Linked DNA regions of Homo sapiens: regions 1 and 2 are each linked to region 3. The links come from fine-mapping of genetic effects on gene expression. A gene starts in region 3. Each other region holds a variant in brackets. All regions are shown on one strand. Distances are from middle to middle. Region 1 has its middle 94 kb from the start of STEAP4. Region 2 overlaps ADAM22 (ADAM metallopeptidase domain 22). Region 3 holds the start of SRI (sorcin).

Evidence for each region.
Region 1: its variant is fine-mapped to the expression of SRI in lung (TOPMed, PIP above 0.99).
Region 2: its variant is fine-mapped to the expression of SRI in whole blood (TOPMed, PIP 0.93).

The regions. Positions count from the first base shown.
Region 1 is chr7:88,395,467-88,406,071 of GRCh38, forward strand. No RefSeq gene overlaps it. Among named protein-coding and RNA genes, the nearest start is that of STEAP4, 94 kb to the left of the region's middle. The variant G/A (reference allele first, on the strand shown) is at 4,411.
Region 2 is chr7:88,193,293-88,203,624 of GRCh38, forward strand. It overlaps ADAM22 (ADAM metallopeptidase domain 22), which reads left to right. Exons shown (of 32, transcript NM_001324418.2): 32 at 3,179-9,597. The coding sequence ends at 3,199. Among named protein-coding and RNA genes, the nearest start is that of SRI-AS1, 18 kb to the right of the region's middle. The variant C/A (reference allele first, on the strand shown) is at 5,597.
Region 3 is chr7:88,214,829-88,225,433 of GRCh38, forward strand. SRI (sorcin) reads right to left here and starts at 5,210. Exons shown (of 8, transcript NM_003130.4): 1 at 5,148-5,210; 2 at 4,031-4,114; 3 at 2,294-2,363. The coding sequence starts at 5,198. SRI-AS1 (SRI antisense RNA 1) reads left to right here and starts at 1,832. Exons shown (of 3, transcript NR_120517.1): 1 at 1,832-1,929; 2 at 3,921-4,396. LOC124901691 (a long non-coding RNA gene) reads right to left here and starts at 1,756. Exons shown (of 2, transcript XR_007060419.1): 1 at 1,615-1,756; 2 at 1-108. RefSeq lists silencers at 4,196-4,285, 4,933-5,432.

The DNA.
Region 1 (10,605 bases), 180 kb after region 3:
TATTTGGAAACCAAGGTCTGGGTGATATTGTATTTTATTAATAAAGTCAATCATTAGAGTGAGCATAGTAATGTATGATTATGGGAGCAGATATTGTGAAAACTAGAAATTTGGAATAAAGTTGCTCATCAATTACTTAAACCAAAAAGGATGAACGCATTTAATTAAGAAAATACATAGTTAAATTTATGATAGTTGATTTTCAGTTTTTTTAAAAAGCATTATTAGAGTCAAGAAAAAGGAAACAATATTTTATAATCTATTATTTTTTTTTTTAACCAGTAAGCAGTGTTGTTTTTGTTACAAAAAACTGCCACAGCCTCATGCTTCTGCAAAATGAATGACACTGTTTAGGTCTAAATCAGTTGCGAAATGACCAAATTGTGGCAGTGACAAAATAGACTTGACATATAGCTACGTTGCAGATATGTATTTGAGAAATAGGGTATTGATGCAATCGATGAGTTTAAGAAACAACAGCTGATTCAGAAAGGAAGACATGGGCGATGGACAGGTCAGATCTGTGCTGTGGCTGAATCCTGAGGAAGTAGCAAAATATTACACTCCAAAGCAGGAAGAAAGTTAACAGAGATAACCACTGAAAAGTGAAATGTGGAAATCAAAAGCTCTGTCTAGAAAAATTTAAAAAATGGTGAATTAAAACATATAAAAAACAAAAGTAAGTTGCTCGACTAAGTCTGAAAACAATGTGTTGTTGTGAGAACACATACCTAAGTAGCCTCACAATACTAGGAATGAAGTTATTAATAAGTCTAACACATTTTCTTTGAGATACAGAAAACTTATTTATAAAACTTATATTAACACATATAGTAATGAAATTTATTAAGCCATATTGCCCCTAATGGCAGGATGTGGGATGGTGGTGGGTGTTACAGGCAGAGGGTTGGCTAATGATGTCACTTGCAAATATTCAGGGGCTTTACCATGTGGAAGAAGGTATTTTCAGTTTTGATGCTAAACAGGAAGTAACATTTCTGGCAAAAAGAGTAAAAATACTATGATATTGTCAAAATATGAAGAATACTGATGTTTATCATAGCAGAGAGAACAAAGACCCAACGTATGAGGTTACTTGGAGAAAGGAAGGTCACTGACTCATTCAGACTTTTCCTTTAGCAAGTAGAGGACGAAGTCAGTGTCTCACAGAACATGATGGAGGAAAACAAAGTAAGAATCAGTGGTTAATACCTAGTGCTTAATGATTTTACTGTAAGCAGTGCATGAGTGACAATGAAACATTTTGTGCAATATGCTAGAAATATCAAAATAGGACTTACATAGGGTACACATGATCACCAGACTTGAAAGAAGAGGACTATAGAACTGAGCAGAGAATACAATATTTTTGTGATGACTGTGACTGAGAGGCCTCCTCAATTCCTTAGTGAACAGAAATTGGAAGTTGCCATCAGAACTTTGTATGTCCTGTTTGCACTTATAGATAATAAAATGTGTTTAATTATTAATATACAAGGGGGTTGAAGAGTTTGGTTGATGGATTTCACCCTAGAAACCACAACTGTCACCTATGGGAAGCTGTTTGGTACAGGCAGACTTTCACTCAGTAATAACTTTGTTCAGGTGACTAATTACAGGATTTTCCTAACATTATAAAAGCCTAGAGATGGGCTTTTTGCATGACAAGAATAATCAGACCTGGAGATGAACTCATATTATGTGTGCAATGCTGATTAGAGCATAGACACTTGTTTAACAGTTTGTGCTGAATGACTATTATGATCACATGGGAGTTTTCACATTTCTCCCTGCTGTGGACTCAATTGTGTCCCCATCACCACACCCCCATCCAATTAATGTATTGAAGCCCTGACCCTCAGTGTGATGATATGTGGAGATGGGAACTTTGGGAGGTAATTAGGGTTAGATGAGGCCTTGGAGGGTAGGGCCTTTATGATGGCATTAGTGGCTTTATGAGAAGAGGAAGAAAGAGAGCTCTCTGTCTGCCATGTGAGGATAGAGTGAGAAGGTGGCCATTTGCAAGTGAACAAGAGGGCCTCACCAGGAAGCTCATAGGTTGGCACCTTGATTTTGGATTTTCCAATCCCTGGAACTATACATGTCTGTTGTTTAAGCCACCCAATCTATGACATTTTGTCGTAGCAGCCCTAGCAAATTAATTCGTGCTCTCCAGGGCGCATGCCACTTTAAAAGGCAGCATTGTGTAAGGCTTAAGGGCACAGACTCTGCCACCTACCATCTGTATAATCATAAGCAAGTTCCCCATTTTCCTCATCTGTAAAATGGGGGTAAAAATAATTTCTACTTCTACCATGTAGGATTATTGTGAGGCTAAAATATGTTAATGCATATAAATTGCTTAGAAAATGTCTGGTATGTGGAAAGGACACATTATACGTTAACCCTTGTTGTTTGTTGAGGAAGTTACCAAGGTATGGTCTTCGGCTTTGAACTAGGTGGACACAGAGTATCACAGTAATAGATGGAAACTAATCAAACGTGTGAAAAGATGTATAATCCTTATGAGTAATTTATTAGTACCCAAGGGGTGATAACTTTTTCCAATGATGGAATGCTGGTGCCCTTATCCAGAGCATTGATTTTTCTGGTATTGAGGGACCTACCAATTTCAACTTTATCAAAAAATGCTTGGGATCATGAATTCAGAGAGGAAGAGAGTATTTCAGGCCATTCAAAAGTGAGGCTTGATGAGTTCATTTCCACTACCCACGTAACTATATATGCTCCTTTGGGTCACATGCAGAGTAAGCCTCACCTGGAAAGTGCTGGGTAAACAGTACCACCTTAAGGTCTCAGGAATTACTCAGGTTTCATTTTTTCCTTTCATGTTTATGTTGACTCTGCCTTCTATTTATAGTCTTTCTCCTGAGATGTTAGAATGCAATCAGTTAATTTCAGTTTAGTAGACTTCAATTACATAGTCTTTTCCTTTGGAGGATAATTATTTCTCTGTGTTTGAGTCTGGGGTACTTTAAGACTCTTCAGTTACATGTTTGTGGATATTCTCCTCAGAATTTTTCTAACCACTAGCAAAGGACAGCCAGAGTCTTTTGTGGAAGGGATCCTGGGCCTGAGCAAATATTCTATAAAAAAGCATGGTTGTTCTTCTTAATCCCAGAAGTCTGTTTCCTGTCCAACATTTTCCAGGAATTTTAAAGGATGACATGAAGAAAGCAGAAGCAGTTGGAGAGAAAGAAGATAAATGATAAATAGATGGCTGTAGAGAACAGATCATGGCTGTGAGTGAGGTACAGCTCCTAAAGGAATTGCAAGGAGAGAAAAAAAGATACTCTCTTCCAACTCTATTATTTTTCAACGTGGGGTAACTTTCCACATAGTTCCATTTACAAGAAAATAAATTCCTTTATTCTTCTGGGAAAACAGGGAAGTATATATCCTTTGTCCCCAAATAATTTCAGATGCTACTTTGTGGAAAGCAAACAAACAAAAACCCAAACAAAATTATTGTGTGAATTTTACTGGCTAGCTCTTGACTGCAACCTTATTTCCAAGTTTTCAGGAGCTGCTTCACTGTTTTCTTATGAATGGGTTACAAGGACTGTGGGATAAAAGTGATAAAGAGACTCGTGGGGACCAGGAGCCGGGGATTCCTGTTCGAGCGGCTACCCGAAGTGCGTTTGGAAGGTCATCAAGACCCGAGAACCTTTATGGTTCTTTTTTTTTTTTTTCTTTTGGTCGACAAAGAAGGCTTCCCCTGGGAGAGGGGGAGTGATAAGCTGCTTACGGTGTGACCTGTGAGGTGCTAATGAGGTCAGATAGTATCTTCCTCATTGGCTTGCCATGGAGCTGGCAGTCTTCACCATTAGAATGCCTCTAAGGATGGTCACCAGAAAAACCTCTATTCAGAAGAAATGTTACCTTGGAGGCAGTGGCATATTAGCCCAGACACTAGCTTGAAAATAGTATGTGCAGGGAGAGAGCTGTGGGTTTGAGGGGCTGAGGGTGTGAACAAGGCTAGCACATTTTGTAGAAGGGTTTGGGAGATAGAGTATGGTGAGCAAAGTGCAGAGGGGCTTTGCAATTGCCCTCTCCTTAGCAGAGGACCTCAGACTCCAAGTGGCAGATAAAGGCACAGAAGTGGGAGAGCAGTGACTAGAAGACCAGCTGGTTTGTCCTGGGTGGGGTAACTCTTTAAGCATTCATATTGCTTGTATTAAAATGGTATTGTAAACTAGCTAGTGTCAAACCCCAGATATCTGTGCGGAGCGAACCACTGCTGAACTTCAAGGGAGAAAAAAGCTTTTTTTTTTTTTTTTTTCTTTTTGGTTTTCTGAATCCTACTTGGCAGTTGTTTTCATCTCCTGGTAAGAAAGCATGATCTATAGCGTGGCTCTATTGAACTAACCACACTGAGGCATTGTTCCA[G/A]TCCATTTGGATGCTTCATTTCAATAAGGCCTTTCTCCAGTTCATCCAGTTCAGGGGAGTTATCACCCAGCCAGGTTTGCATATTTTTCTGATTCATGGCTTCACATATCCTGAGTATTTCTCATTAGTTTCGGAAAAGAAAGGAAAGGGCCTCATGAAGTCCTCACAACAATCTTGAGCTGTCTTCTGGTTTGCAATCTGTTTAATTGGAATGGAGCCTACCGATTTCAAAATGAGTCATCTGTTTTTCTCTTGGAAGAGATGTCTTTCTTTTTCTTAAAATTGATAATTTTATGAACATAGGCATTTTGTAAGTATCTATAAATCTGTAGGAGTTTTTTTTTTTTTTCCAAACTGCACAAAACCTAGCCATTACCCAGTGAACTGCTAGTACTGTCACTTTCTATGCCAGGATTTAGTTCGTGCGGAATTGTTAATATTGCTTGTACAGTGTTATACTATATATTAATATGAAAAAGTAATATATCACCACATGACTTAAGGGACTTGATAGTTGACATGAAATTATGATCATGTACAACTCTAAAGCTATGTACAAAAAGATGAAACTGAATCATTTCATTGACTACAGTACATTTTCTCCCCAAATAAATTGATTTTAGATGAATTCCCTTCATCTCTTTCACCCTGCTGGGCCCGGGTGCTTGCTGTGAGACACAGCTAAGTAGGAAAGAGGCTGTTGTTATTTGATAGCAAATTAATTCAACAATTTCAACAAACATTTATCGAATGCCTACTATACACCAAATATAATGCTACGTGCTAGGCATACAAAGAGGAATCAGGTATCGTTCTTGTTTTCAAGAGGTTCACTATTGAGTGAGGCCAGAGAATTGTTTATGATTAGCCAGAATTCATGTGGTAAGTGGTCTCTTAGTGCCAATGCAAAGAGAATGTGAGGAAAAAAATGATTTCTATTCTTGGGTGACAGCCGAACTGGACTTTGAATCTTAGCAGGTGAAAACCTGGAAAGGCTGTTTCAGCAGAAGTCAAAAAATAAAAACAACATTCCATAAACTTTAGATTACCTGCTAGGTATCTGGCTACAATGCACTAAGACTTAATCTGGCATCAGAGATGAGGATTAAATCTCTCCCATCAATCTGTAAACTAACATTTATATATTGTTTTATAATAGAAAAGTGCTTTCCTGTGAATTATAGCATTTACCCCTCACAGAAACTCTGTGAAGTAAGAATTACAGACATTCCTTTGCTTCAGTATATTCAGATTACAAATGTTTCCTAATCCATACAGTTCCTCTGCAGAATAAAAATCTATCAATTCTGTTTGCTACCAACAGATGGCGATAGTGGTTGCATATGGTTGGTAGCCGCTCTGGGCCTCTGTAGTTTGCTCATAATCAATTGTATACATAACATTTGTGTTAGTTTTAAGTATTTCACAAGTACAGTCATGCTTCACTTAATAATGGTTATACATTCTGAGAAATACCTCGTTAGTCCATTTCATCAAATTGCGAACATCATGGAGGGTACTTACACAAACCTAGATGGTACAGCTTACCACACACCTAGGCTAGAGGGTATAGTCTATTGCTCCTAGGCTACAAACTTGTTACTGTACTGAATAGTGCAGGCAGTTGTAATACAATGGTAAGTATTTGTGCATCTAAACATAGAAAAGGTACAGTCAAAATATGGTATAGAAAATAAAAGCTAGTATGCCTGTGTGGAGCACTTACCATGAATGGAGCTTGCAGTACTTGAAGTTTCTCTGAGTGAGTCAGTGACTGAGTGGTGAGTGAAGGCCTAGGACATTACTGTACACTACTGTAGATTTTATAAATGCTGTACACTCAAGCTACACTACATTTATAAAAATATTATCTTTAATTAATAATAAATTAACCTTAACTTACTGTAACTTTTCTAGTTTATACACTTTTAATTTTCAACTTTTTGACCGTTTTGTAATAATATAACTTAAAACACAAACACATTGTACAGCTGTACAAAAATATTATCTTTTAAAATATATTTATGCTATAAGCCTTTTTCCTAAAATTTTCTTTAATTACTTTTGTTAAAAATTAAGACACAAACATATACATTAACCTACGTCTACCCAGGGTCAGGATCATTGATAACACTGTCTTCTACCTCTATGTCTTGTCCCACTGGAGGATCTTCAGGGACAACAACAGGCATGGAGCTGTCATCTCTTATGATAATAACGTCTTTTTCTGGAATACCTCCTGAAGGACCTGACTGAGGCTGTTCTACAGTTAACTTTTTAAAAATATAAGTAGGCTAGGCGCAGAGGCTCATGCCTGTAATCTCAGCACTTTGGGAGGCCAAGGGTGGCAGATCACCTGAGGTCAGGAGTTCGAGACCAGCCTGGCTAACTTGGTGAAACCCCATCTCTACTAAAAATGCAAATTAGCTGGGTGTGGTGGTGGGCACCTATAATCCCAGCTACTTGGGAGGCTGAGGTAGGAGAATTGCTTGAACTCAGGAGACAGAGGTTGTAGTGAGCCGAGATCATACCACTGCACTCCAGCCTGGGTGACAGAGCGAGATTTTGTCTCAAATATATATACACACACACACACACACATATACACACACACATACACACACACGTATGTGTATATATACATATATGTATATATATATGCATGTATATATGTGCATATATACACATATGTATATATGCACGTATATACATATATACATGCGTATATACATACATGTATGTAGGTATACATGTGTATGTATATCTACATGTGTATGTATATATACATGCGTATGTATATGTAGATACACATGCACATGCATATCTACACACATGTATGCAGATACACATGTGTATGCATATCCACATGCATGTATATACATGTGTATGTAGCTATGCATATATGTATACATACATGTGCATGTAGATATACACGTGTATATCTACATGCATGCATGTATGTATATACACATGTATATATGTATATATGCACGTATATACATGCATATACATGTATATATACACATATACATACATATATATGTATGTATATATGTAAAAGGAGTATACTTTCTAATAATAAGTATAGTAAGTACATAAACCAGTAACACAGTTGTTTATTATTATCAAGTATTATGTACTATATGTAATTGTATGTAGTATACTTTTATATGACTGGCAACACAATGGGCTTCTTTACACCAGTGTCACCAAGAATGCTGTAATGTTATAATGGATACAATGTCACTAGGTGATAGGAATTTTTCAGCCCCATTATAATCTTGTGAGACCACCATATATGCTGTTCATTGTTGACTGAAAGGTCCTTTATGCAGCGCATGACTGTTTTATTAACTGTGTTATGTACAGTAAGTGCAAAGACAGAGAGAATGTGGCAAATGTTGGTAAGGTGTTTATAGCATGATGGTGCCCCCATCACGTCCCCCTGGCCTGCTTTTGATGTTAGCTGCAGCCATAGTGTACAGTTCTGTGCAGGCACAGACATCTATCACATACCAGTGTCACCCCTCAAGAGTGCATTGTATTCTGCTTCAGGGCCTTCTCTGGAGTTATAGAAGCTCACTCAGACCACATCCAAATGCAGCCCTCTTGGGTACTGGGAAGTTAATGTATTGAAGGCAACCCTCAACCGATGTTGGGAGGAGCCTATGGATAAATCTTCTTGTCCTTTCAGTAGACAATTATTATTATTATTATTATTATTATTATTATTTTTTTTTTTTTCCTAGATGGAGTCTTGTTTTGTCACCCAGGCTGGAGTGCAGTGGCGTGATCTTGGCTCACTGCAACCTCTGCCTCCTGGGTTCAAGCAATTCTGCTGCCTCAGCCTCCCGAACAGCTGGGATTACAGGCTCCTGCCACCACACCCAGCTAATTTTTGTATTTTTAGTAGAGACAGGGTTTCACCATGTTGGCCAGGCTGGTCTTGAACTCCCGATGTCGTGATCCGCCCACCTCGGCTTCCCAAAGTGCTGGGATTACAGACATGAGCCACCACACCCGGCCTAGTAGACAATTCTTAAATCATTCCTGTGAGTCCTGGTCAAATCGAGCCCCTGGTGCTACAGCACTTAGTTCAGTAATAAACCCTTTTATTGGCTTTTCTTCCTTCCCTATCCTTCTCTACTGCCTGATAGCACATTTACTTAGAGATTGTCTTCTTCTTCAGAATATTAGCTCCATAAGGACAGGGGCTTTGTTTAGTATCTCAAAGTGTTCCAGGGAAAGACTGGTGAATAAATATTTATTGAATAAATTAATAAAGACATATGACAGCAAAGAAGAAAATAGCTGAATTTAAAACTTTAAAGGAATAAACTCATACTCTCATGTTGTAGAAATGCATTGATGCCTGCAAGATTAATCCTTTCTCTGTCATTTTGGACTACAAACAGGTAAACTTGAAATCTAACTGGTTGATGGATAAAGAACTATATGATACTGTCATATTTTGTATATGAGAACATTGAGCCTCAGGTAGACCAAGGACTTGGGCAAGACAGAAGAGAATGGATGAGGCTGTGGCAGGTTGAATAATGCTCATCCAAAGTTATCAAGTCCTGATCCCTGGAACTTTGGATATTATTTTGTTTGGAAAAAGGGTCTTTGTAGATGTCATTAAGTTAAAAATCTTGAGATGAGGAGACAACTCTGCATTATGTGGGTGGGCCCTAAATGCCACCATATATGTCCTTAGAGGAGCAAAGGGAGATGACACAGACACATAGAGGAGGAGACACATAGAGGAGAAGATAAGGTGAATTTGGAGCAGAGGGGGCTGCAGCCACAGCTAAGGACAGCTGCCACAGGTTAAAGGAGGCAAGGAATGGAACTCCCTCTAGAGAGTGCATCCCTGCCAACACCTTGATTTTAGACTTCTGTCCTATAGAACTAATGCATAAATACTATCTAATATAGAAAACAAATACTATCTATTGTTTTAAGCCACCCAGTTTGTGGTAATTTGTTATGGCAGCTCTAGGAAACTAGTACAGAGGCCCAATAAATTTGTGAACTCTCACTTTGAAGAGTCTCAGAAAAAAACAAAATTTCACCAGAGTCAGCAGTCCACCTTGTTAGCATCTTCAGGTCCTTGGCGAGATTCCTTTATGGAAAACTATCCTTTTTTCCCTTTCAAATAGTCTTCATGAAAGACCAGTTAGAGGCAGGGAAGAAGCTCTAGTGGTCTTTGACTCACTAGTCATGCCCTCCAGTGACCATCTTAGAAGGGAGTCAGGGGTGATCATCCAGGCACCACCATGTTAGAGCTTGGTGCATATTAAGTCTTCTTTCACTCTCCCTCCAGCATATATACAACCAAACACACCACATTTTACACACCCCCCAACTCTCCCCAAACACACCACATTACAGTACAACATGCACACATGTATGTGCACACACAGCTGTGCTAATAGCAATAACAATGTGCCACTAAGAAATATCTTGTAACAACCCAAATGCCTATCGATAGATGAATGGATAAACAAATTGTGGTGTATCATATAATAGAAGGCCACTCACCAATGGAAAGGAATAAACCACCATTACGTACAATAGCATGGATGAATCTTAACAATATTATGTTGAGTAGAAGTAACCAGACATACAATGTACATGCTGTCTGACTCTATTTATATGAAATTGTAGAATAGATAAAACTAATCTATAACAAGAGTGGATTAGTGGTAGCCTGGGGCTGGGGAATGGGAGATTGATTGCAAGAGAGTATGAATGAGCTTTTGGTGGGATGGAAATGCTCTATATCTAGGTTGCAGGGTTGATTAGTTGGTTACATGGTTGTACACGTTTATCAAAACTCATAGAACTTGTACATATAATGTAGTTGCATTTTATTGTATGTAAATTATACCTTGATAAAACTAACCTAAGAAAGAAAAGTAAAAGATACTTTGTGCCACTTTTGGCATGGATGATCTAGCTAAATTATGTTGTGTGAAAGTCCAAATATTTTATGTCAGGAAATACTATTTCCTCATATATTATAAGTTATTGGTATAAAAACACAAAACATTAGGTGATTAGAAATATCCATTCCTCTTCTTTCACTCTCCCTCCAGCTTATACATGACTAAAGACAGTAACAATACGTTTAAAAAATGCTCCTAAATTAGGAAACTTTCTACATGTAAATTCAAGTTTGGATTGTTGATA
Region 2 (10,332 bases), 22 kb before region 3:
ATGAGTTTATATTTTAAAAGAGAGAACCATTTTTCCTCCCTTGTTCCTAAGAAAATGAAAAAATCAAACTTGAAAATAAGGAGATTCTTGAGACTTTTGGCTTCAGATTTATATTTGCAAATAGTTTAATCTGCATTGATACAGTCTAGGTACATTTTGTGTAATTAATTGCTATATATTTAATTATTGTAGCTAATTTATTAAAACCTACAGTAAACAAAACAGTGTATTTTGCTATATCACCTTTTACATTTTAATCACACTGCCACTGTCTCACAACATTCCTGAAACATATCAGTATGTGAAATTCGAGATACAGTGGAGCTTAGAGAGGCAGACTGGTCCTCAGAGACTTAAGTGAAAGATGTAACCAAAGAATAATTACCTTTATTGATGTCCAGGCTCTGTTGTGGTCATTTACACTGTAATGTTCATCTTCTTAGAAATAATGTTGCAAAAAAATAAAATAAAGCTTATAAGCCTCGGCAGCTTTAGCTGCTGGTTAGACTCTTTGGTCTTCAGAGATGTTTCGGAATCTCTTTGATCCCAAACCTAAATTATGTGATTCAAGGTAAACGTGGATCATTCAAATTTTAATTTTAACTCAGAGTCAGTAAGAAGGCACAAATAATTAAAAGCTGTGTAGATCACTATAATCCAAAAGTCTTTAAAAACTACCAGCAGTGTTTTGTTAATCATAAAAAATTACCATTATATGTTAATATGAGAAATGGTAAAAGATAACAAGACAATTCAGATTCCCAGCACTCAGCTTTCTGAATTAACAAAAGACTTCTTGATAGATACCTAGTTGTTCATGATGTCATGTGTGATAATGAAATCTGAGACTGAGGTCATTCCTGCCCTCCTCAAATAATTGTCTAAGTGTAGCAACCCACTTTCTGCTAAATTGTCTGCATCCCTGTTTTGTTCCATCAAGTTAGGGACATTCCCTCAGCTGTTGTCATGTCAGAGTTTGGGTTATTGGAGATGTTACCACACAAGAGCCTGTAAAAATGATAGCTCCCTAGAAAAAATGACTGGCCCTGGGCTGAGCAGGTGACCACAAAGGCTCTGGCTGCTGGGATTGTTACCTGAAAAGTCTGATTTGTTCTATGCACTGTGGAACAGCCACATAAGCATGTGGCAGAATCCTACCAAATACACAGCCCCTGTCTCTGGGCTGTCTCTGTGGGCTGTGGAGAGTGGAACAAGCAGATCTTCCTATCAGCAGCCCCTCTGTTACCACCACATAGACGTGGGCCAAGGCATGCCTAGTGCTGAAAGTGATGTTTGGCAATTGCTCATTTTTTCTCACTGGAGTAATCATGACATTCAGGTTTTTCCCAATGTTGTTCATTTGTCCCTCCCTTCTTTCTCCTGTCACATATTATTTTTAATCTTTATAAAACAATATTGAGGAAACTTCAGCTCTCTGAGGCCAGAGTCTAATCCCTTTAGCCCTCCAGACCATTATCTGAGCATCAGTTCAGATCGTCTTTGCTCCAGACCCACCACAAGCCCCATTTAACTCCTCTCCACCACCAGTGTCACCCATTCACGAAGATCCTCACAGTTCAGATATTCCTGTGGTTTACAAGGGGTTGGTGTCTTTTCAATAAAAAGGGCATATAAAATGACCTAAGGTAGATAGCATGGTGGCTTTACCACAGTCCTGTGGAGTAGGCAGACATGGGCATTCAGAACAAGATTTCCATGAAGATTTGGGAGAACATATTAAGGGAACCTATATAGAAACATCTACTTACTCACTTGGCTTTTTCTCCTTTTTCTTTCCCAGAAACTCATTATATATACAGCGACATGCACCAAATGTCCAGTAAAAATGGAATTTGGATGGAATTGGATACAACCTAAGTCACTGTGTTCATAGGCTTTATTTGTTTATGTTTATAATAATTATATCTAAATTCTATTGCCTGGAAACATATTTCATCAGCTTGATCTTCTTTTTAAATTGGTCTTCCTTTTCTGGTGAACTGAGTTGCATTCATATCTGATCATGTCACACTTGTTATTAGTCCATTAAGGTGATTGCTGAACATTGTAGAAATTTGACCGGAACAGGGCCAATATAAAGAGCTCATGGCAAAAGCAAGGAGAGGGTAAGAGGGACAGAATGAATGAAGGGACATCCTGCCTTGAATGTATCCTTCCACTGTGATACCTCAGCTTGTGAGAGAGAACCTTTTATTTATTTTATTTTATTTTATTTTATTTGAGATGGAGTCTCGCTCAGTCGCCCAGGCTATAGTGCAATGTCGCGATCTCGGCTCACTGCAAGCTCCGCCTCCCGGGTTCACGCCATTCTCCTGCCTCAGCCTCCCGAGTAGCTGGGACTACAGGTGCCCGCCACCACGCCCGGCTAATTTTTTTTGTATTTTTAGTAAAGACGGGGTTTCACCGTGTTATGCAGGATGGTCTCGATCTCCTGACCTCGTGATCTGCCCATCTCGGCCTCCCAAAGTGCTGGGATTACAGGCGTGAGCCACCACGCCCGGCTGAGAGAACTATTTTTTAAGGAGGTAGTGATAGAAGTGGAGTGTATGGCAGTGATTTTCAAGTGGGTGATGGTGGAATTGATGGAATCACACTTCCCTGATGTCAGTGGTTTTCTGTCGTGGCTGCACAAGGGAATCATCTGCAAAGCTTTTAAAATATTCTTACGCCTGAGTCCCACCCAGAGAGATTTTGATTTAGTTGGTCTGGTGTGGTGCCTGGGAAGTGGAATTGTAGAAACCTCCCCAGATTAATGTAATGTGCAGCTGAGGTTGAGAACCACTGCTCTAGCTGGCTGTCTCAGAATCCTGGGGAAAGGAAGGGCATGTGTAGCTTAAAAAATAATATTTTAAATTCTTTTATTTCATTTGAGACACAATATTGACTCTATTCAAAATGTTTAGTAACATTAAATGAGGATGTGATGGTTTTTGTATCAAAAGATGGCTGCTGTTAAAAAGGTTGAGACACAGGTTTTGAGGAAACAGAGAGCTAAAAGTTGGAGTGTTTATTCTATCCACTTTTTAGACTTTGCAAGAGTGTGCATCCACAATCACATATATATGGATGGAATCACTGAATCTTTTTCATCTCCTATTCAGAATACATCTGCTTCCTGCTTTCACAATGTGCAATTTTGCTCTTTTCTGTTGTGCAGCTATGGGAGACATCCATTTAAGATCAACTGTTTACATGTGATACATCGAAAACTGTTTACTTCAACTTTTATAGAAACCCAGGCTCATGGAATCACTGCAAATCTATCTGCTCTTCAGACAATACGAAGACCCTCTGAGATGCTACAGAGGAGAGGAAGCGGAGTTTCACATCTGGTTACCATTTTCTTTTTGTCATTGGCTTAGGATTTAACTAACCATGAAAAGAACTACTGAAATATTACACTATAACATGGAACAATAAAGGTACTGGTATGTTAATGGATAATCCGCATGACAGATAATATGTAGAAATATTCATAAAGTTAACTCACATGACCCAAATGTAGCAAGTTTCCTAAGGTACAATAGTGGATTCAGAACTTGACGTTCTGAGGCACATCCTCACTGTAAACAGTAATGCTATATGCATGAAGCTTCTGTTTATTGTTTTCCATATTTAAGGAAACAACATCCCATAATAGAAATGAGCATGCAGGGCTAAGGCATATAGGATTTTTCTGCAGGACTTTAAAGCTTTGAAAGGCCAATATCCCATAGGCTAACTTTAAACATGTATTTTTATTTTTGTTTTGTTTTTTACTTTTCATATTTATATTAGCATACAAGGACAATTGTATATATGTAACATTTTTAAAATTTTAAAAAAATGCAGCTGTTACACACAAGTGTATTTTGCCAAATGCCTAAAAATTCCGTCACAATCACATCATCGTCATCCATCCAGTGATCTTCAAAGACTATAAGCAGGTAATGTAAATATAGTGGTCAATGCTGTAAATGTGTCTCTCCATAATTCGTATTTGTCCAAAACATGTGATATCCCTTTAACCTGTGCACAGTCTGGAGGCAGTTTTATTGAGTGAGTAGTTGAGTGAGAGAACAAAATGCCCAGCAAAACTTCTGGCCTCCACAGTTTGCTGATGCAGGAGCCCACTCTGCTGCCGATGGGCTGCTCCCTGGAAATCATCTATCCCATCCGTCCATCCCATCTCATCCCAGTGAGCCAGCCCCTCAGCAGTGTGTGCTGCTGAGATTAAGCAAGTGCACCAAAGACACATGAGACAACGTACTGCCAGTGAGCTGGTAGCTTCTGGTTTGCCAATACTCTAACCCTTTGTGGCCTGAAGTTTTGTTCCTTGGCAAAACTTTGTAGTCACCCTTATCTGTGAAATGAATGACTTGTTTTAACAAAAACAACTTTGACACTGTTGATTAAGAATATTTGTCATCACTGGGATGTGAATCCCAACAAGTCATTCTGCACTGACTCTGAAGCAAGATGACGGAAGATTCTACTGTTTGAGTTGAGCAGCTTCAACCATTCATAAAGGGTTAAGTTAGATCTAAACCACAGAGATGCAGCATCTGCGAAGTTACACTAACAGCTGGTGGGGGAAAGAATCTGATGCTTTGAAACATATATTTTTAATCCATAGGAAAATAAGATTCTATTTTAAAAGACCCTTCTTTAAAACCAAAGTTTGATAGCTGTTATAATGGCAGATCTGTCATTCCAAAAGAAAGCTAGCTACCCTAGTGAGGCTGGAGATTGATGGGCTCAATCACATGGTCTGCTCTGAAGTATACTTCTGATTTCCTCATTTGCTGTGTGTTCTTAAGAGGAATGGAATCTGCAGACAGGTTTTCAGATATACTCTCTTAAATTTGATCCTCTCCCATAGTATCCATGGACAAAATCCATATCATCTTCATATGTAATCAATTTGATTACATATCATGCCCAAACTGAAGGGCCGAGTTAGAAGGCAGCATTTTATACTGTGTGTTTATGTCTTCTGTAATGGACCTCTCTTTTGAAAGTCTTTGAAATGTTTGGAAAGCAATTTAATGATCCAAAATTACATAATGTAAAACAGCATTTTTCATGACAGGAAGGGATGTGATTGTTGATATGACCATAAAGCGATCCATCAGGCCAAGGTTTGGGTGAGTGTTGGGCAGTGTTGCCACATAGCTCAAGCCAAGAACAGAAGGGCAGACAGATTGAAAGATGTAGCAAATAAAGTGACTTTTTACCAAGATCACTGTAACGTGCACTGAATGTTTCCTGGTACTGAGTGTACAAAAGGCTAATGCTATAAGGTTTATTTTGACTATAAAAGAGTTTATAGATTTGAATATAAGGTGCCTCATGTAAATATGCTTCCTAGTTACAGGTACACAAACTCTAATTTGAAAGAATCCACAAATGGCTAGCTGAGAAGTTAACAGATCTCTATCATTCGTCTGTGTGTCTTTCTTCCCTCACCTATTTTTACATGAAATTATTATTTCAAATGAAAATCATGATCATGTGCCTTTTGGGAGACATGGTTTCTCTAGAGGTATATAGTTTGTAATTACCCGCCTTGGTAATAACCTTCCTGTGGAACTGA[C/A]TAAAAATTTTTGTTTTATTTGTAGAGATTATGATTTGAGGTATACAGTAACTTTAATGTTCTATTCTTGGAATCTACTCTATCTCCCATGTTTAAACATTCTTAGAGCCATTTGTGGGATTCATTGACAAATTTATAGTCTCAAGGGAGAGTTTCAAGAAGTATCTATATGTATACTCATGGTTGGGGTTCTAGAGGCATTACATCTAAATATTTATGACTTTTCATCCACCGAGGTAGGTAGCATTAAATATACAAGCACAGCATTATTTCTCTTTAAATATCTATTTTGGAGAGAAACTTTGAGGCCGTATCACAGTTTATATCATGCAACTAATATTTATATTTCCCAATCCACTACAAAATCATTGCTAAGCAGAAGAGAGCAGTTATTTGGCCTTTATGTTCCATTGTATGCCTTTTTCCCCTCTTCCAGTTTTATGCATTGATAAGACTACAGATTGGCACCCTGCTGCCTGAGAAGTTCCATTTATCCATAGTCATTGCAGTGCAGTAAACCCTGATTTAAAGGAACATTTAAGTCTCTCCAGTAAGTGTGAACAGGAAGGCATGGGATAGAAGAGAGTCCTTATGGAGTGGACTGGCCACATGAACTGTCCTCCAGCCACTCTTTATTTAGATGGGAAGTGGCATGGTCCTCTGAACGCTGCAGGCTGGAAATGATCCCCAGGGCACATGCAATCTGTGGAAAGGAATACATCGGACAGTGCAACATGGTGAGGGCTTTCAATTTGCTGTGGTTGCTGTATTTTTAACAAGACACCCGGAGCTTCGATTAGGAATAACCTATCATTAGAGTTGTTCCTTTAAAAAATGTTGATGAATAAAGCAAATGTGGGTTTAAAATGCCAACTTATTTTTCACTTTGATATTGGTGCTTTATTAAGTGATACCATAGTTTCTCTCTCTTTTCCCTGTTACTTTAAAAAGAATTTTAAAATTGTGTTTGTATATAAGGTCAGTCTGGCATAGAATTTCTGAAAGTAACATTAATAGGATTTCTAAAGAAGTTGTCAGAAAGACAAAATTGGATATTCTCTGCACTTTCAGAGAAGGACTATTTATGTTTGAATTTCATAACAGGCTTACATTTCTTTTCTATTGATTCCCTTGCATATCTACATAATTTAATCCTGTCTATTGTCCCAGATCTCTTGTGGCTACTTTACCTGTTACCTTTTTTGGGATTTTGTTCTTTATGTTTTACAGTTACCTTCGGACCAGAAGATATATGGTATTTTTATTCACTTTTTTCAGTGTTTTAAAATAAGGTTTGTTCATTTATTCATTTTATCCATTCATTTCCTATTGTCGTATAGTTCTAACCATATATATAGTACTTTAAATATTTTCTTATGTTATTATTTAACACAATAATAAATTCTTATCTAAAGAAAAGATTATTTTACTTTATTTTACTTAAAGGAAAGAGAATTTATTGGCAGGATATTGAGTAGCTTGTAGAGTATATGGAAGGGGAGAGCCAAGTTAGGAACTGGCAGGAGCGAGGAGGGACAAGACAGCTGCCTGCACAGTCTGATAGGACACATCTGGCTGCTGCCACTGGATGCCCACATGGGCAGCGTGTTGTAAATATCACCCTACCAGTTGGTAAGTTGGCATGAATTTTCCATGAAACACTTGACTGCCATTTGCAGCATCATATCTACTTTTTATGCACCTAATTATATTTTTCCTTTCACTTTTATGTTTTTTTCTAAAACTGCCACCTAAATACCTTTCCACTCCGTTAAATGTATGGAGTCAAGATAAATTTCTCATTCTTGCTCTACAGTTTAAGATGTATAAGAAGTAAACACTTCCGTGGAATAGGGCTTAATTTGGGGCTCAAATGTTTTGTTTTCCTCCTGAGATGTTTTTGAATGGATAAGACTACTCTGGTTTTGGATGCAGCAACTTTTCTCCTGGCATGGAAGAACTAAGGACTTTGATAAACAGTTTCCCATTGATAGTATAATATAATGAGGGGCCCAGTCTGCTCTTGTGAAAATTGGCTGAGCGGCAGCAGCCCATCCCAGCTGTGTGTGAGTAGCCCCGCTGTTAAAAGTACACCTGCTGGGAATTGTTGGCACATGCTCATAGCATATGCTCTGTGGGGGAGGTGCTTTTAATTCCAAGAGGAGCTTTTCTCCCACATCTGCGGATGCAGAACAAAGATGCAGCAGGACTTTAGAAAACAGGAGTGTTTCTACTGACATTTTATTCATTGCTTTGTTAGTCCCGCAAATGGAGCAACTTCTGGTTGTTTGTAAGCAGAAAAACAAAACATTCAAAACCAAAAACCTAATTAGTACTTTTGTCCTTTATATCCCTAGGATGCTCTAGGGAGTAGAGGTGGCAGGCATCTTTATCTTCACCCACTGGCACATTAGCAGCTTATGCAACTTAGGAAGTCACTGGGAGATGAGTCCTAAAAGCCTGAATTTCAGGATGGGGAGGAGATAAGAAGCAGAGAACTTTGGGAGACCATGGGGCATTTAGTCCTGGCATAGACACAGAATGGATATTCACAGGAAGATTCCTGAGGCCAGATATGCAGGAGAGCACACATTGTCACAAGGGGTGTGGTGGGAAGAGAGGTGCTGGATGCCTAAGACAGACTTCTGTGCTTGGCAGATTGACTGAGTGTTGACTCTGAATACTTTGTGGTCCAGTCCATAATAGGCCAGTCACTCCTGCCTGATGCATCCCTGTTGCACTGTTCATAAAACCTGTATCATATGGGGAAGCTTCAAGGCTGGCAGGCTTTTCATCAAGTAATCATCATTCCATGTTCCTACGTATCCTTGAAATCAAAACCAGGCAATATGTGTGTTTTTGGTTTTGTTTTACAAAAAGGCATACAATGAGACGAATTCTTAAGATAATGCACATACAGAATCATCAATAAAGTTTCAAAGAGTTTATGAAGAAAAGGTATTTTCCTTTCTTGTAAAAAATGTTATATATATATAATATTCTGATCTGCATTCACCTTAGGGCTTAGCCTCTTATTTTATGAATTTTCAGGCTGTGATTTGTGTTGGATGGCTAAGCTCTAAAATAATGCAAATAGCCCCAATCTTTAAATATAGCGGTGCTAAGTTGAACAAGTAACACAATACAGAAAATGCTGATATGAATACTTAGTAATAATACAAAAGTTCCTGCTAAATTATATATGTGTATCACTGCCTGACTAGAAACCCCACTTTTCTTTTCTAATCCAGCACAAAATCAAACTCTGATTCTACAACCAGTCTTTTTAAAGGGCAAAAATGACTCAACACCTTTGTTTTGTATGGAAAACTTTTTTTTTTACACTAACTGCAAAACTGCTTTAAAAAAAGGCTTATTCAGGATAGATAAGCATGTACTCCTTTTTTAACTTGCTGGAAGACTTGCCCCTCCAAACTAGCACCCCCAAAAGACAACTTCTTTCAGAAACGGGGTGTTTTACCTAAACATAGTAGCTTACATGTTAGCCAGCAGTAGGTCGGCACTAGTGTTTTCCACGGTTATCACCTTTGACAGGTGATGTGCATCTATAGATAGTGGAAGCCACCCCATGAGGAGGTGTTAATAGCAGCATGGTTTCACTTTTGGTAATCAGGTAATCATGTGTATATACTTAGATTCGCATTATTTTAACATTTCTCTGCTACTCTGCACTTCAGGTTCGTTAAGCTATTTTAATAATTACTGGGGTTATGGCAAACACCAATGGAAATGTATATGGCAACTGCTTTCCTGAGCAAGTGTGATTTGTTTTATGGCTGTTCAAGTTATAAAATTGTTCTTACATTGTAGGTAAACAAAATCTTGATGTTTTTAAAGGTCACTGTAACTTAAGGTTCAAATTTCTGGCACAGTTTTATTAGTATTCACTTCGGAAGCTAATAAGATACCATGGTTTTCTATGTTACTCCCATTGTAACATTAGTAAAGTGACTTTCAATAAAAGATTTATGTTATTTTGATGCACGACTCTTCTTTTTCTCCCAGCTAGTTTCTCTTTCAGAAGCTTTGTTAGGGGTACAGTCAAGGGATTGTTTCTTTCCTGTTCACTGGTGTCCCAGAAGGGGTCACTAACATGATGAGAAATACAACCCTTTAGCAAAGCCTGAGTGCTCGATTTGTTGCAGTTTCCTCATCTGGATGGCAGAGGTAGTTTACTTATTTATCTATTTGCCTCTCCTTGTAAGCACTTCCTCTCTCACCCTAATGAGGATCAATTTCCTATATCCTGTCCTGTAGACCAGGCAGTGGTGCTTAGTTAATAAGGTCACCTGTGCTGCATTCTAAAGCACTGAGCCTAGGATGGGCTCATGAGTTCATTGCCTAAAAACTGTTCCACCCTGGCTTTTTCATCTTCCAGGCAGGCATTTTACCTACCCGTCATTATTCTGGCATTTGCGGGGTCCTTGCCATCTGTTCATAGGCTGCATAGTTAATAAGTTATAAGTAGTCAAGGTATTGTTTTAATGTGAGAAAAAGAGAAGGAAGTCACTGATGAAGGGTTTGTACATTTAGTATGAGATTTTAAAAGTTTATGGTGATTACACATAGCTCCATTTCTTGCATTTATAATATTTTAGTCATATAATAAGTCATTTAGATGAACACTGAAACAGTAACTCGGCTGAGCCAAAGCAAAGTCTAGTTCACAGATGGCAGCCAGCTCGTGGACTTGATGGTACCACCTGGAACATCAT
Region 3 (10,605 bases):
TAGAATGCCTCAAACATCTTTTCTTCTCACAGAAACATACAATATAATGGACCTAGAAGGAAAGCCCTACCTCCAGCTGTTTCTCTCAACCTTATCACAGACGAACAACTAAATTCAGGGAAAAAAGAGAAGCTGAATTACAATCTTACTGACTGGAACACAACTTCTCTCACCAACTCCACCTCTAGGTATGACTGCTTCCTTTTAAACTGGTTAAGAAGGGCCCATAGGCTCTGAGCTGGAGTATCCCACCTGCTCATCCAATTCGGACCTGTGCTTTTTGGTTTGGAAGTTGGGTTTAAAAGACTAATGGCCATATAATATCTGCATTACAAAACACTGACACCTCATAGGCAGGATGGTTCTGTGGTTCAGTACGGCCACCAGAGAGTAGGCAAATGGATTCAATCACATAGGCCCCATGATTCAGGAAATGCTTTCTCTTTAATGCATTGATCTAAGGCCATCACTAAATGTGGCTTTCTCAATGAAATTTTAAAAGGACTGCTCTCTAACAATATACAACCCATTTTGTTAGTCAGATTCTAAAATCTGCCACACCTCATCTACTGAAAGGATGTAGAATAACAGGCCATGCTGTGATCTCACTGCACTTTGATAAACCCTGCTAATAGGCAGGCCTACCTTGTTTACCAGCTCAATTGCGTAACAATTAACAATTTAAATGTACTGCCTACACAGTAAAGAATAACATCCCCTAATCCAAAAAGTGCTTATTTTGTTTAGGACTAGATTAAATAACAGGAACTTGAAAGGTTCTTCGTTTGTATTAATTCCTCTAATTAGGAAAGAGTAATAGGATACTAAAGTCACATAAAACAAAGGATAATGAAAACAAATGCAAAGAGTTCAAAGACAGCCATCTAATACATGCCATGTCAAATAGTTTTTAAAAAAAGGCCACTATAAATTCACAGCTGTGAATTCTAGTTTGAACATTTTAATCCACAGCTAACCATGAAATTGGGTCTTCAATTTGATGTTTTGTCTCAATTAACAACTGGCAAAGAAGTTGGTAATGTATTTGAACTAAGACATTATTCTCTACCCTGGAAATCTATCATGTTCAAGATCTAATTTCAAGAGGAACCACTTCATATGTGTTGGATGATGAGAAGCCCCCAGTTGGGATGCAGCAATTTTTTGGATTTTCTGAGACAGGCTGTCACCCAGGCTGGAGTGCAGTGGCACAATCTTGGCTCACTGCAACCTCCGCCTCCTGGGCTTGTATAATCCTCCCACCTCAGCCTCCTGAGTAGCTGGGACCACAGGTGCATGCCACCATGCCTGGCTAATTTTTAAATTTTTTGCAGAGACAAGGTTTCACTATGTTGCCCAGGCTAGTCTTGAACTCCCGGGCTCAAGCAATCCTCCCACCTCAGTCTCCTAAAGTGCTGGGATTACAGGTGTGAGCCACTGTGCCCTGCCAGGGATGGAGCATCTTTGCAGTATTTCATTACTCTCAGCTCATGGCAGAGTGTTCAAAAGGCAGGGGTAGGGTAAGGGCTGAATTATGGAGCAGCAGGTCCAGTAAGTAGAAAGGCCACTTCCCACTTAGCCTGAATACATTCTATGAAGTGGAAGAGGAAAGACCTGAGGGATGTCATGGCAACCACTTATGTTAGCAGGAGCATGCCCAAAGCTCAGAGACCAGGAGTGCAGGATAGGCCACTCAGGGACCAGGGGTGCAGGGCAGCAACTCAAAGCCCTAAGTGCCACCAGGTCAGGGCAGAGTAGGCTCTTGGCAAATAACAGTAAATATCAGTTCCTAATGTCAGTTAATGACCCCTGACCTGGCAGATTCCATTTCAGCACCCTACCTTGTCCTCTGTGAAGGAGGCCACCCAAACTGTCTCACTGGTTCTAGGTACACAAAACCCAAATCTGAGAAATCCACTAGATTGGCAGGTAGGATGGAATAATTTATTATTATTATTATTTTAAAGACAAGGTCTTGCTCTGTTGCTCAGGCTGGAGTGCAGTGGTACAATCATAGATTACTGCAGCCAAAAACTCTTGGCTTCAAGCGATCCTCCTGCCTGGGCCTCTGAAGTACTGGGATTACAGGTGTGAGCCACTGTGCCCAGCCTGGAGTGATTTAAAAACTGTTTTCAAATCAACATTTTGAAATAGTACTGTATTTTAGCTTTCGGAATTCTAAACTTTGCTAGATCCGACAAGCTCAGTTTTCTTGAAGGCTGTAATCACAAGTAACAGCTAAGATAGGAAACACAAGAGTATATTTAGACAAACTTTGGGACTGTCAACTTACGTTTGTATCCTCCAGCAATGCCAGACTGTGTCAGACATCTCTGCAATTCATCAGCATCTATCTGCCCATCCTTTTGAAAAAAAATTAGAGGAATCATAATAGTGATTTGTACTTTCAAGTTGTTTACCTTCAGCATTCAATGAAGCAATAACAACAAAGAAAATCAGTATCTTTTTTTTATTTAAAAGGAATGCCTTTTTTTTATTAAAAGGAATGCCTTCCAAAAGTGGGCATTCTTTTCCTTAACCCACTTCCAAAAGTAATTTAATGATGAAAGAAAGAGTCTGTCTTGGCAACTACTCTTCTCTCAATCTGAGCTAGCAAACTGCTACAGCTAAACATTTTAAAATATTTTTTTTTGATGGGGGTGGAGAGAGCAAGGTACAAAGCAGACATCAATAAATAGAAGGCTTGGTTCAAACAGAAAAAGGCCTCCTTGGTCACTTTTTCTTATGATATAGTGAATCATTTTTTTCAGAGCACAAATACATCTGGAAGATTCACATTAGGTTCCCAGTGCCCATTCACTGGCTGAACTGGGAAAGAACTAGATATATGTGATTTTTAGGGACTTTAAAATAAAATACCTAAATCTTCAAGTCACTGGGTATTATAAGTTATAAATGAGGAGCAAGATCAGCAATTTGAAAGACAATGGGTATGCTGAATACAGGCCAGGGCTGCTGAAAGCTAAGCAGGTGGAGTCACTTACATGCTGGAGGCACTGGCAATCTAAGAATGCTAGTCTTGAGGTTTGCCATGCCTTGTGGTTTCAAAGATACAGATCATTAACAGTTTAAGTAGATACTTAAGGGGAAGGTCTTCCAGTTTTAGACTATATTTTCCATTCAATTTCTTAAGCTGTATTTCTTAGAGTACTACCTTAAAAGTGGTCTTAGGTTTTTTATCCCATAATATTCTACAGTTTTCACATTAAGATTTTGCTATTTCTAGCTTTTGGTCAAAACAAAACTAGGTTGAATTCATAAGAACAAACATCTCCTCTGGACGTGTCTGGGTTATACCAACAGTATATTTACTGCACACAGTGACCTCATGAACTAGGGAAGTGTCCTCTCTCAATGTAAGATAGCACCTGTCAATGTAAGATAGCACCTGTCATACAACTCAGAATGCAGACAAGTGAAAGGTCTTGGGGAGCTGACCTTAATTGCTTCTCTGGGTCAACAGGCCAGAACACCTAATAAGGACATGGAGGGGCTGACCTAGTAACAGCATCTGCATCAAAGAGAAACTACACTGTTCACAAGATTAACTTTCTGATACTAAGAAGGGAACAGTAACTTCCTTATTTAGAAGCTGGTGGGTTTTTACCATATTTCCTAAGGGGGTGAATGATTAGCAATCAAGTTCAACCCAAAGAAAGTGCCCATTAGAATCGAGCTATGTAATTACTAATATATGTCTTTAAGTTGTACAAACAAGCGTTTATATTTACCAGATCTTGAATTTTTTCGCTTGAAACCATCCTGGACCCTTTAATTCAACCACAAGTTTGCTTTCGAACTGAACTCACATAAATACGAGTAACACTTTGTCCTCATTTATTCTGAACATTCAGAAATAAAAAACTAAAATAAGAAACAACTTTTTTTTTCTTTTGCAGAAGCAAAGGGACTCAGTACCACAGGAAGTTCGCTTTTCTGTGTCACTATATCAAAAGCTACCACAAATGCAGACAATAACGGCTCTTTAATATTAAAGGGAAAAGCTAACCTGTCCAGCTACAGCAGCAAAGTAACCATACAGCGGATCCTGAGTTTGTCCGGGAAACGCAGGCCCTCCGGGAGCCCCTCCATACTGTGAAACAGGAAACACATACACGTCATTCTGCCGAATCAAGTTTTCTTCTTTCACCACTGAGGGCTTTTGTGCAAGGCCAGACAACTGCCCGCCTGCCCGCCCTTCACAAGGCTCACCTCCCCACCACCGGGCACACTCTGCCAACACTCCACCCCTCTCTTCCATTCACACCCCGTAATTTAAAAACTGGCGACTTAGACCATAAAGAGTTGCTGTGAAAGTGATGTCTACATATGTAAAGCAACTTTTAAAATCCCTATTAACCTGAAGGTTACTGAGGTGAGTGCAAACTAGGTAAGCCAACGAATGGCAGGGCTTCAAATTCTCCTTTTGTTGTTACAGCATTTATGGTATTTTAAGAGCGTTTTATGAACGATGGAAGGCTGGAGTTGGTAACATTCTGAGACGGGTGTAGCCTAGGGAAGAGTAAGGTGTCCGGCCGGGCTGTATCTCGTGGGTGGCGAGGGAACATTGCCTGTCTCGGAAACAGTTCCCAAGACAACGCGCATCCCAGACGCCCGGCGAGGCTGCCTTCCTACAGGTCTTTTACTTCAGCAGGTTTTCCCTTTTTTTCCGTCCCCCTTCTCACTCGTTTTTTGTTTGTTTGTTTGTTTGTTTGTTTGTTTGTTTTTTAAAGGGAGGAAGGTATATCATTCTAGAATAAAATGACTGTTGTTGCTCTGGGAGGCAACCAAGAAGGCGGGGGTGGGGTGGGGTGGGGGTCAGCCAACACCCAATTAACACGATTTCACGCCGCGTATCCGAGAAGCCGCAGGGTGGGCTTCTAGGGTCCCAATCCACCCTCACCTTGGCCCCGCAGGGCCATCCAGGAGAAGGGACGGGGAAACGTGGGGAGAGGCCGAACCCCAGGGGCCTAGGGCGAGGCCGCGAGCGCAGGGAGAAGCCGAGGGCGGAAGGAGCCCGGGTAGCCGCCCAGCAGCGCCTCACCCCGCTGGCCGCAGCATCTCCAAGGTGGCCTCTTAGCGCCCCGGAGCCGCCTGGGCCGCGATCCCGCGCAGTCAGCACTTACCCCGCCTGGGTAGTACCCGCCGCCGGCGCCAGGATGCCCCGGGTACGCCATGCTGCAGACTGCGCCGCAGCCGCCCTCGCCCTGTGCGCCAGGCCTCTCCGCCCCCTGCCCCGCCCCGCCCTGCCGCTAGGGGGCCGCCCCAGAGCGCACCACGCGGGCGTGGGGGACGCGCTCCGCAGTCGTCTCCAGCTCTTGCCTGTGCGCGCGGCCGTGGCTCCCCTGCCTGCGCGCTTCTTCGTATCTTTGCCATTACGGCGCTAATGCAGTGCACGACTGAAGGTCCAGTGGCGGCCTACGACCTGCGAGGCAATTCACACCAGGGACTTTCCTCCCTCCAAAACTAATGGCACATTCCAACACCAATACACCACCCCAGGAATTCTTTTTTTTTTTTTTTCCTTCGGACTTGGCTATTATCTGGCACATTTCTTATTTTAAACAACTTTATTGGACAGGACGGAGCTATTATAAGCGGAGCGCACCATCGCGAGGCAGGGGCTGGATGCGTTAGGGCAAGCCTTAGGTGCCAGTGGGTGAAGGAGTCTTTGAAAGATGGAAATACGAAAGCGCCCTTGGAAAATAAGAATTAACTTGACGAACTGTGTGCAAGGGAGAGTTTGGCTTGCTGTTGGTTGCAGAGTTCACTGAACGACAACGGCGTATTTCCTTCCTAGGGGACAATTCCTTGCCTGTTTAAGCTGAGCGTGACTTGTGTCCTGAGTAGGACAGAGGGCATTTTCCGGGCAGGACAGACTCACACATATCGTTCTTAGGAAAATGAATTGTTTGAATTATCTGGATGATTCAGACAAAACAATCCATTTCCCTAAAAGTATTCAGCTACTTTTTATATAAGAAAAGTTTAGAACAAACTAATAGTGTACTGGTAAGTATTCAGGAAGATAAGAGATAGGAACTTCTATGTAGGTTATTCTTCTTTACTTCATATATTTTTCTATCTTCCAGTTGAATAGTCCGAAGCAATTCAGGCGTGAGCTTTTTGTTTTGTTTTGTGTAATTTCAATGACAGAAAATTGCTTGCCCTTCACTGTTAAGGACTAGACTTAATGATTTCCTGAATTTTAACGTATTGAGAAACGCATTAATAAGCAAGATTCACAGTATTTGTTGTGGAGGTTGCACAGAAACATTTAAAGGGTCATCAACATTTCACAAATATTGGAGCACCCGCCAATGTGGTACTGTGCTTTTTCGCTGTGGTGGACGGGCTTCCTCCATTCTAAATTCGTGGGCTATTGTCCTCATTCGGTTCATTGTTTTTCTCTTGTGTGTAACTTCCCTCGCAAGCCCTTTTGAAAACCAAAGTCCGAATTGTGAGAAAAATTCTAATAGTCCCTGTTGTGGCATAGCAAAGACACTGCATGTTGCCTGTTTTGTGTTTGATTCAGGAAGCAGGTTACTGTTTTCAATCATCAAGGTAGCAATCATCAAGGTAGATGAGACATCTAATGAGTCCCCTGGTCTCTCTTTGGAAGCCTGTTTCTTCAGAAAGAGGTAACCGACTATAAAGAGTAGATGTCAGGGCCGAACTCGATGTTGAGTACAAGCTCAAGACTCAAGTTTGAAAGAAGTATAAAGCATATAAAATATTTTTAAGTACTGCAGAATTAGCTTCGTGGATAAACGGCTATACGAATTGGCATATCAGTTGTCCTTAGACATCTTCCCACTGCTTTACTGCTAAAGAATTGAATTTTTTTTTTAATTACACTTTAAGTTTTAGGGTACATGTGAACATTGTGCAGGTTGGTTACATATGTATACATGTGCCATGCTGGTGCGCTGCACCCACTAACTCGTCATCTAGCATTAGGTATATCTCCCAATGCTATCCCTCTCCCCTCCCCCCACCCCACCACAGTCCCTAGAGTGTGATATTCCCCTTCCTGTGTCCATGTGATCTCATCGTTCAGTTCCCACCTATGAGTGAGAATATGCGGTGTTTGGTTTTTTGGTCTTGCGATAGTTTACTGAGAATGATGATTTCCAATTTCATCCATGTCCCTACAAAGGACATGAACTCATCATTTTTTATGGCTGCATAGTATTCCATGGTGTATATGTGCCACATTTTCTTAATCCAGTCTATCATTGTTGGACATTTGGGTTGGTTCCAAGTCTTTGCTATTGTGAATAATGCCGCAATAAACATACGTGTGCATGTGTCTTTATAGCAGCATGATTTATAGTCCTTTGGGTATATACCCAGTAATGGGATGGCGGGTCAAATGGTAATTCTAGTTCTAGATCCCTGAGGAATCGCCACACTGACTTCCACAATGGTTGAACTAGTTTACAGTCCCACCAACAGTGTAAAAGTGTTCCTATTTCTCCACATCCTCTCCAGCACCTGTTGTTTCCTGACTTTTTAATGATTGCCATTCTAACTGGTGTGAGATGGTATCTCATAGTGGTTTTGATTTGCATTTCTCTGATGGCCAGTGATGATGAGCATTTTTTCATGTGTTTTTTGGCTGCATAAATGTCTTCTTTTGAGAAGTGTCTGTTCATGTCCTTCGCCCACTTTTTGATGGGGTTGTTTGTTTTTTTCTTGTAAATTTGTTTGAGTTCACTGTAGATTCTGGATATTAGCCCTCAAACTATACTACAAGGCTACAGTAACCAAAACAGCATGGTACTGGTACCAAAACAGAGATATAGATCAATGGAACAGAACAAAGCCCTCAGAAATAACGCCGCATACCTACAACTATCTGATCTTTGACAAACCTGACAAAAAGAAGAAATGGGGAAAGGATTCCCTATTTAATAAATGGTGCTGGGAAAACAGGCTAGCCATATGTAGGAAGCTAAAACTGGATCCCTTCCTTACACCTTATACAAAAATCAATTCAAGATGGATTAAAGATTTAAACGTTAGACCTAAAACCATAAAAACCCTAGAAGAAAACCTAGGCATTACCATTCAGGACATAGGCATGGGCAAGGACTTCATGTCCAAAACACCAAAAGCAATGGCAACAAAAGACAAAATTGACAAATGGGATCTAATTAAACTAAAGAGCTTCTGCACAGCAAAAGAAACTACCATCAGAGTGAACAGGCAACCTACAAAATGGGAGAAAATTTTCGCTACCTACTCATCTGACAAAGAATTGAATTTTAATGGAGTGTTGCAAATTCAATTCTTACAATTATTGCTAACAAATTGGTCAGCTGCTAATACTTTAGTTTGCTGGAAAAAATTGTGGCAACTTATAATACCATCAGACATATATATAATAATAAAAATATGCCAGATCCTCATCGCATTTTACTTATTTGCTTAATCTTAATAAAAACCCATGGGATAGGTACTATTGTCATTCCTATTATACAGTTTTGAGGAAGGGGAAGGAACAGAACAGAGCTGAGCTATGCTGCCAAGCCATCTGACTCTAGAGTCTGTGCTCTACACCCAGGGGCAGGTAAAGGGCCAGGTAGTAAATATTTTAGGCCTGTGGGCCATACAGTCTCTGTATGAGAGAGTCTACATACATAGTGGTATGTAGACTATGTAGTCATAGTGGTATGGCCAAATACCACTCAACTCTGCTGTGTAGGCCACAAGTATCCATAGACAATAGATAAATGAATGGATGTCGCTGGGTTCCAATGCAACTTTATTTATAGACACTGAAATTTGAATTTCATATGACATGAAATATTATGCTTAATTTTATTTTTCCAACCATTTAAAAATGTAAATATTATTCTGAGCTCTTGGATGTACAGAAATAGGAGGTGGGTCAGATTTGGCCTTTGGGCAGTAGTTTACCAACCACTGCTGGAAGCCCCTCCAGAATGCGGGCTTATGACTCTGGCAGTTTAGCACTTTAGCAAATGATTTGCTGACTGTAAGATAAAGCCTATGGGTAGAATACAGTTATTTGTCAGAACGATTTACTAAGTCCTAAAAAAAAGACTGTAGGAGGGTTGTGACAACAGCATGGGTTAGGGAGAGAACTATGTGAGGTTTATAGATAGGATGCAGGTCATGGTTATTTTGGGAAGTCATTGGAATTACAGAAACCTTTCTGATCATATACTCCAATCCTGCTGTTTACAGAAGAAAAGACCAAGGCTGAGAGATGGCAAATATCTGGCCCCAGCTCTTGAAGAGCAGACCTAGCCAGATGTAGATATTTCACCCTTCCCAATTAAAGCTGTGACAGTAGATAAACATGCTCTCAGAGAGAATCCCATTCTTTTGTGGTACACCTTCCCTAATTATGTTTTCAAGACAAACGGCAGTGTGGACACTTTCTTATTCCTGGAGAAAAGTTAATATAAAGCTCTACATATAGTATCCAACCTGGACTTCTTCGCTCAGATAAGTGGTGAAAGAAATAGTGTCTAACTAAGTAACTGTAGTTATTTCACCATACCTGCAGTTGAATTAACCATAGGTCTTCACTTGTTAGGAAGAAATGAGCAATGACATTTGCCAATTTAAAGTTTCAATTTTTGTTTAGTTCTGATCTGGGTGTGGCACCTCATGATTTAAAGACCTCTGCCTTAGAGAGAAGCTCAGATCTCCAAATGTAAGTGGAAATGAGCATTTGATAACAACATAGGTAACCAATTAATAGTATCTCCACTTTCTTAAGATTGTTGGGAAAGAGTGTGAAGCCTATGATGTTCATTTGGGAATAAAAGCCACCCTTTTTCTTGAACTGTCCGGAGTAAGAGCTCAGTTAATCATGCTATTATGTAATTTTTTCAAGGGATAGAAAACTTCCACTATTGATGTTTTAGTGCTTGCATGTAGAGTTTAACTGGTCCCTGGCATATTGTAGATGGTAATGAATCATCAACCACAGCTCTTCAAACAACTTCTGCTACAATAGAAATGTTTGATAACTATGCCACACAATAACTAATCACATATGGCTATTGAGCCTGTGAAATGAGGAACTAAAATTTTAATTTAGTTTAATTTAAAATGGAATAGCTGTGTGGCTAGTGCTACCCTCTTGAACAGCACAGGGACCCTTTCATCTGTGTTGGCTTCCTCCTCCCTGGAACTCAGAGAAAGCAAACTCATTCTACTTGCCTGGAATAGGCATGATAAGCAAGATAAATCAGTTATTAACAAAACACAGCAAGGGCAGTCATCAGCTCTGTGACAAACGTTCCCATGTTCCTGTTCCTACAGAATAGATTCTCACTGACCTGTTCCTTCCCTTAATGAAGCTCTGAGCTGGAGTTGATGATCAGGATTAACCAGGAAGCTGATGTTGGAGGAATTTATTATGGCTAAATATATATGCCTATATACATATATGTGTATGTATGTATATCATTGTACATATGTAAATATATGTGTGTATTTTTACAAACACACACACACTTTATATATATACTTTCTTATCATTAGGGCTGTCAAAAATGACCTTCCAAAGATGAGTTCCCCATCACTAGAAGTGATCAAGAA